Homo sapiens: one gene and its partner. The gene in region 1 interacts genetically with each later gene. Each region holds a gene or a part of one and is shown in the gene's direction. Other genes may lie near its edges. The genes, in order: CMAS and PPP2R2A.

Region 1 (3,831 bases):
TTTTTTATTGTATTCTAATTTCATCTTATCCTCTCGTCATCTCTATTTTAAAAATGCACTAGGTTTTCATTGCTACTTTACTTTGTTATATACCTTTGACTATGACATTTCCCAAGAGAACATTTTTTTCCCACTATTTCAGATTTCAAGATGGAGGAAAATGGGGGCTCCTGCGTTCGCCCTGCATAGAGTGACATAAGTAGATATCACGGGATTCTTGACCCCTAGCCAGTGGCTCATCTTGTTTGCTAGGCTTTCTTTGATTATTTTTTCTTACTGACTTTATCCCTTGATTTAAATCCCTCTATAAATATTAAAGGGAATAAACGAAATAAATAAATGAAATCCAGGGATGTTAGAAGATTTTCTTTAGTTTTTCACTTTCTTTCCACTCATGATAATTGAGCATAGACAAACATGCAGTTCAGCCGAGCGTGGTGGCTTACACCTGTAATCCTAGCATTTTGGGAGGCTGAGGTGGGAGGGTCACTTGAGGTCAGGAGTTTGAGACCATCCTGGCCAACATGGCAAAACCCCATCTTTACTAAAAATTGGTCGGGCGTGGTGACACATGCCTGTAATCTAATCCCAGCTACTCAGGAGCCTAAGGCATGAGAATCGCTTGAACCTGGGAGGTGGAGGTTGCAGTGAGCAGATAATGGGCCACTGTACTCCAGCCTGGGTGACAGAGCAAGACTCTGTCAAAAAAACAAACAAAACATGCAGTTCATCTTTCCCTCAGTAGATATCGAAAGAGTGGGATAAAAGGAAAAATATATATGTGTGTGTGTATATGTATACATATACACACACACATATACACATTATATATACACATTATATATACACGTTATATATAATTTTGTATGTATATAAAATAATGTGTATATATGTTTGTGTGTGTATATATATATATACACACCAAATATATATATATATATACACACACATACACCAAAGACTATAAGTCATTAAGATATCTTTGCATAAATCACTATTAAAACATGGTGGGGGCCGGGCACGGTGGCTCACGCCTGTAATCCTAGCACTTTGGGAGGCCGAGACGGGCGGATCACGAGGTCAGGAGATCGAGACCATCTTGGCTAACACGGTGAAACCCCGTTTCTACTAAAAATACAAAAAATTAGCCGGGCGTGTTGGCGGGCGCCTGTAGTCCCAGCTACTTGGGAGGCTGAGGCAGGAGAATGGCATGAACCTGGGAGGCGGAGCTTGCAGTGAGCCGAGATCGCGCCACTGCACTCCAACCTGGGAGACACAGCGAGACTCCGTCTCAAAACAAAACAAAACAAAACAAAAAAACATGGCAGGGTTTTGTTGTTGTTTTTTGTCTTTTTTTTTGAGACAGGGTCTCGCTGTGTCTCTCAGGCTGGAGTGCAGTGGCGCGATCTCGGCTCACTGCAACCTCTGCCTCCCAGGTTCAAGCGATCCTCCTGTCTCAGCCTCCCTAGTAGCTGGGATTACAGGTGTGCATCACCATGCCCAGCTAATTTTTGTATGTTTAGTAGAGTCCGGGTTTCACCGTGTTGGCCAGGCTGGTCTCCATCTCGTGACCTCAGGTGATCCACCCGCCTCGGCTTCCCAAAGTGTTGGGATTACAGGTGTGAGACTCCAGGCCTGACCAAACATTGTGGCTAGAGTAGTATTTACATCTTCTGCATTTAGCAGTGGGAATTTGTGACTGTCCAGGAAACAAAACTTCAATAGAAACTGGTACCCCTCTCCAAAACAGCATTTTGCCTACTCATCATTTTGTAAAGGCTAAATAGGCAACTGTGTAACCTGCGGTTAATAGAGTATTAAGTTAAATTCTTTTGAGCTAATGAAGTCATGTTCTTCATGTTTGTTGTTATCAATGGCTATAACCCAGCTGATTCTACATCTATATACCCATTGTTTGTTGTTTAAAAAAGAAAGAGTTGTTTCATCTGATTTTTTTTGAGCCCAGACTTGGGCATTTATTATCTTCTAAGCTTGAAACTGTTTCACCTTTAGGGTTTGGCTAAGCCAAGTCCATTTTTTTTTTTTTAGCAAGCATATTAAAATATTTTATACAATATTTTGGATTTGGATGGAGAATAAGCAAGATCTTTAATTTTCTTTAGATTTGACTTCTAGTGCCTTTTTAAAAACGTTTATTTTAGGTTCAGGGGTACATCAGGCTTGTTACAGAGGTAAGTTGCATGTTGCAGGGGTTCGGTGTACAGATTATTTCGTCATTCAGGTAGTAAGCATAGTACCTGATAGGTAGTTTTTTGATCCTCACCCTCCTCCCACCCTCTACCCTCAAGTAGGCCCCAGTGTCTGTTGTTCCTTTCTTTATATAAAGCATATCTAGGACTGCATTTTTATTCATTAATATATTTATATACAAAATACTTTATAATTTCTTACATTTTATACTCCTTTGGATCTGTAACATTATTATCATTGTGCAAAAAATATTCTCACATTATATAAGCTGTATTTTATGGTTACAGAGCTCCATTTTATTGTTAATGATTTCTTTTGATTTGGCTGTTAATTTCTTTTGATATCTGAACAGTGTATGGGTTTCGACAGACCATGATGAAATTGAGAATGTGGCCAAACAATTTGGTGCACAAGTTCATCGAAGAAGTTCTGAAGTTTCAAAAGACAGCTCTACCTCACTAGATGCCATCATAGAATTTCTTAATTATCATAATGGTATGAATTTGATTAATAGTTTATTCAAACCTTTATGTACTTTTCTACTTCCTTTATTATCTTATAAGACTTGTTTTAACATTTGAATTCCAAACCTTAATATTACTTGCTTGCAAGGAACTTTTTTTTTAAATATCCTTTTCATTTCTCTTGTCTTTTTAAGAGGTTGACATTGTAGGAAATATTCAAGCTACTTCTCCATGTTTACATCCTACTGATCTTCAAAAAGTTGCAGAAATGATTCGAGAAGAAGGATATGATTCTGTTTTCTCTGTTGTGAGACGCCATCAGTTTCGATGGAGTGAAATTCAGAAAGGAGGTAATCTCTTTTCAGTCTTTATTTTAGCTGATTTTATTGAGAATCAATTTTTTTGTATATAAATATCCTTTAGGCATGAGGAGAGTAAAAGGGGAGCTGTAAAAGAGAGTATTTGACTCATTACTTTAGTAGGTAATGACATTTACAATCAGCTGTAAATCTGTTATCGAGCCAACACAGCTAGACCAAATTAATTCTTTGCTTTACTCTTTACAAAGGGACATTCTAATCCTCTTATTTCTGTTTGCCTTTTGAGGCAGATATGCTGTTTTTCTAGATCAAATACTTTTATGTTTGTTCTAGACATGTTTGATGAACTCCATACAAGTCATATAGAGATAGAAAGCATCCACCAAAGTGTTCTGAAGGATTTCAAGAATGACATTTTGAAGTTCTTCCCCAAATTCCTAACTCCATATATAAGAAGGGTTCCCTAGGGTTTACTAGGCATTTTGCCTGCCATGTCCAGTGTGCTATAAATCTTATCCAGAGAATTATTATAAACACTGTGTTTTTCCATTCAGTAATGTACATTTTAGTTGTTTCGTAGGGATTCCATTTTCTGTTGAAATTTTCCATTTTTTTATCCATTTTAAAAAAAGGTCATTTCCTCTAATTTAACATATTTTTGATAGCTATTTGAAAGTCCTTGATTGCAAATTTCAACATCTAGTCACTTACAGTTCTGTAATCTGCTTCTTTCTTGATTGTGAGTCACCTATTTCTGCCTCTTCATTTGGCTCATGTTTAATTGTATATCTGGCATAGACACTTGAGTACATATTTTCCTCCAGAGAGGGTACACC
Region 2 (3,831 bases), on another chromosome or scaffold:
TGGCCAGTCCTTAGTAGAGGTGCACCTGCTCAGGTTGTGGGAGTAGTTGAACTAGAGATTAAATTTGGTGTGCCAAGTCAAATGGACTGGTGTTCTGCCTTTTGGCAGATAACTGTTGTCTTCAGCTAAAAGAAAGGGCTTGAAAGCCTTAGCAGATGGCTTTAGGAGTTGCCTATCCGTTGTTGGATGTCAGTTCTTGATTCTCTTATCAGCCAGCCACTACTGTTTATCCGTGTCCACTACATCAAACAGAAGAGAATGAAGTACACAGCCTGGAACAGGGTGAGGGACAGCACAAACCTGTGCTAGGCCCTAGACTGCAGTGTTGAAATCACTTAACTCTAATTTATACATATACTTTCTTTATGTTATATATTCTCAATAGACTGGGAAGTATGTTTCTCAAACTTTAAATCCTCTGACAAACATAAACGAAGATTGTTTTTGATACGTGAAATTTCAAAATAAATACTGCACTGAAACAAAAGACAAAATACTGCTTTGCTTTTCAAAGTATAGTTCACTATTGAGCAACATGGATTTGAACTGCATGGGTTCACTCATACACAGATTTTTTGTTTTGTTTTGTTCAACCAATGCACATTTGAAAATACAATATTTGAGGGATGCAAACCCCTCAAATATATGGAGGGCCAAAACTTCACGTGTGGGTTCCGCAGGGCTAACTGCAGATTTGGGTATACCTGGGGTTCTTGGAACCCATCCCTCGTGTATACTGAAAAAAGACTTCTATTTGTGTAACTGCCAAGATTGATATATCTCCTAGTTACCCTCACCATCATTTCATTCCCATTGAGAAGAATTGATTTGAAGCTTAGCTTCATACTGATGTATAGTGAGAAACTCTATAATGTGCATTCTAAAATGTTGCTAAATTATGATAATCTACCTAATTTTACCTGATTTGCTACTTTTCTACTTATAAACAGTTGGAGTAGTGATTAAAAGTAGTCACATTATAGGCAAATGTATCATATATAGATAAAACTATTTTTATTGAATTTGTACCAGCATCTTGCCAAGTTTTGTGTGATTGAAGGGTATTTTTTTCTTACTGATTTTTTTGTGTTACATGCTCACTTTTGATCCTAACCCCACATGAGTTGCTATTCCTCTGTATTACAGATTTTCACTTAATGTCACAGAGACATGGCCTGAATCATTCCACTATATTTAAAGTTAAAATAGACACTGAAAATAAGTTTAGATTGTTTCATATAGAATAGAGAATTCTAAGCATTTAGAAGGTACCTTCTCATTTCTGTCATTTCTCCTTAAGTAGCTCCTTAAAAAGAGATGGTGAAATATAGACACTTCCTTTTTTCCTTTGAGTTACAACAAATACTTTGGAACTTTTGTTTGTAATTAATATTAATGTTGAAATATGTCATATTTCTCAGACTTTTTAAATATGAGATTTCTAGTTTATCCTTTTTTGACATATTAGTAAATACAGAATTATATAATTCAAAAAACAGGCACAGCTTTGTTAGCTTTTGACATTGTATAATATGATACTATCAAATTTTTAATAATATATGCCCAGAATAACCATATAATTTATCACCAAACCAAGGCATGGTTACGCTATGCATACATGTGCATTTATAATGGAAAATATAGGCTTCAGTTAAATTTATGCCCAGAAAATGGTATTTAAGAAAGAAATAGGCACAGTTTCAGTGTTGTTATCAGTAGTTAATGGACTGAAAGCCAAGAATAGTGATATTCAGATATTGCTATAATGTTCTTTTATTAGTCTCTTAACTGTGCCATTTTCAAGTGTTTTTGGCCTGAATGTTTTATTCAGGCTTATAAAGGCTATGTGTGCCATGCCCAGAATGGAGTTTTCCTTTGTCATACCAGTAGGAAAATGTACCTCCCTGAAGGGCTTGTGTGTTTTGTAAAAGGACAAAATGCCTTTATTGTTACTGAGAAGATTGAGATTAATAGGTTTAAAAGGTGTGTGTATGTGTCTGTATATGCCCTTTTTTTCTTTTTAAAGATATGGACTTGTTAAATCATTTTCCTAATTTCAGTGCAGTATATTTGTATTTTTCCCCCAGGTGCATGAATACCTCAGAAGTAAACTCTGTTCACTGTATGAAAATGACTGCATATTTGACAAATTTGAATGTTGTTGGAATGGATCTGACAGGTAATTAAGTCAAACCTCTCAAATATGAATTTTATTAAAGAAAAGAAACAACTATTTCATTCCAGGTCCTAACTTCGTCTCTAGGGATTCCTTGAAATAAATTTAGTAATTTTAGATATAGCACAGCAGTACTGGTAGATAAAAAATTAAAGCATTGTATTTCACTAGTAAATATAAAAGTACACAAATTCTAGGTAATCTAAATTATTTAAATGTCTAGAATTTTTTTTCTTTTATGAACCAGATCACATTTCTGACATGCTAACCATTAAAACGGTGAAGCTTCAGCTTGGTTGTTATTCTTCCATTAAACTGTTGCAGAAACATTCAGGCGGCAGATAACTCATTTGGATTGTTAGAAACACCAGGTTTTCCAGATGCTACATTAACACCTCATAGAAGTGGTCTTTCATATGTATGTTATGTATGATGTTAACCATAATATATATGGTTAAAATTTTAGTAGTAGTTATCCTTTGCTTTTTATAATTTCCAGTTTTGCCGTAGTGTAATTCCTTTTTCGTATTCATTTTTAGTAAAATGTTACCCATTATTTAAAGATAAAATAAGTCTTACTTTGAGTCTTTTAGTTGTCTATTTGCCACTATGTTCCAGTAGAACAGAAAGTAGTAAAACATAATTTTGGAATTAAACTGACATTTAAAGTAATCAGAGATACTTCAACAACAGTTTTATCACAGAGCTTAATATGATTCCGATTTCATGGTGTTGTGTGTTACAGAGGATAATAGAACTTATAGAATGTTTTCTTTCATCTGGCTTTTAAAATTATCTGATTTTTGACATAAGGACTAGTAAACCTAGAGTTCTGTTAATAGCAAACATTGCCTTTGAGTGCTACTACTAAACCTGAGGCATCAAGAAGAAAGAAGGAAAGGGAAGAAGAAAAAAAAGATTAACAAATTTGAAGAGTAAAGAGATACTGAAATAAGGTGTGGCGCACAGCTACAACCAGTTTTTCATTGTATTTAAGCAGATAATTAGCAGTTTTATGTTCTATTATCAGAAAAAAACGATTTGTTTTCCTTAATATTAAAAATTTTTTTTTAACTATTTCAAACTTAGAGAAAATTTGTTAGAATAACACAAAGAACTCTTGGCTGGCCTTGACCCAGGTTCCCCTGTCGCTGTTTGCTGTATCACGTGTTCTATTCTCTGTTTATTTATAGCTATATTTGTCCACATAGGTACGTGCGCATGTGCTCACATGCAACTTGTGTGCCACATGGGAATTTATTCCATTTACGCCAGATGTGATGCCCATAACCCTAAATTCTTGAATGAGTATTTCCTGACAAAAACACTTTCCAACATAGTGACAGTGCAGCATCCAAAGCAACATTCACAGCGATGCAGTACTGCCATCTAATCCGGAGACCCACTGAAACTGACCAGTTACTGTAACTATGTCCTTTATGGCACAGAACAAAGTCAGTCTGGTTCAGTATCCAGCATTTAGTTGTCATCTCTTGTTAGTCTCCTTTATTCTGAAACAGTTCCTCAGTCTCTCCTTGTCTTTCATGACCTTGGCATTTTGAAGAACACAGGCCAGTTATTTTATAGAATGTTTCCTCATGATTAGATTCAGGCTATACATTTTTGGCAGGAATACCACAGAAATGCTGGCCTAA

Evidence for each region.
Region 2: changes in CMAS (region 1) and PPP2R2A together harm fitness less than expected from each alone (positive genetic interaction), as found in Homo sapiens cells (one large-scale study listed by BioGRID).

The regions. Positions count from the first base shown.
Region 1 is NC_000012.12:22,052,586-22,056,416, forward strand, and holds part of CMAS (N-acylneuraminate cytidylyltransferase), read left to right. Parts: intron 1-2,563; coding exon 2,564-2,706; intron 2,707-2,869; coding exon 2,870-3,025; intron 3,026-3,831. UniProt on the Homo sapiens protein: Catalyzes the activation of N-acetylneuraminic acid (NeuNAc) to cytidine 5'-monophosphate N-acetylneuraminic acid (CMP-NeuNAc), a substrate required for the addition of sialic acid.
Region 2 is NC_000008.11:26,364,228-26,368,058, forward strand, and holds part of PPP2R2A (serine/threonine-protein phosphatase 2A 55 kDa regulatory subunit B alpha isoform), read left to right. Parts: intron 1-2,087; coding exon 2,088-2,179; intron 2,180-3,831. UniProt on the Homo sapiens protein: Substrate-recognition subunit of protein phosphatase 2A (PP2A) that plays a key role in cell cycle by controlling mitosis entry and exit. Involved in chromosome clustering during late mitosis by mediating dephosphorylation of MKI67.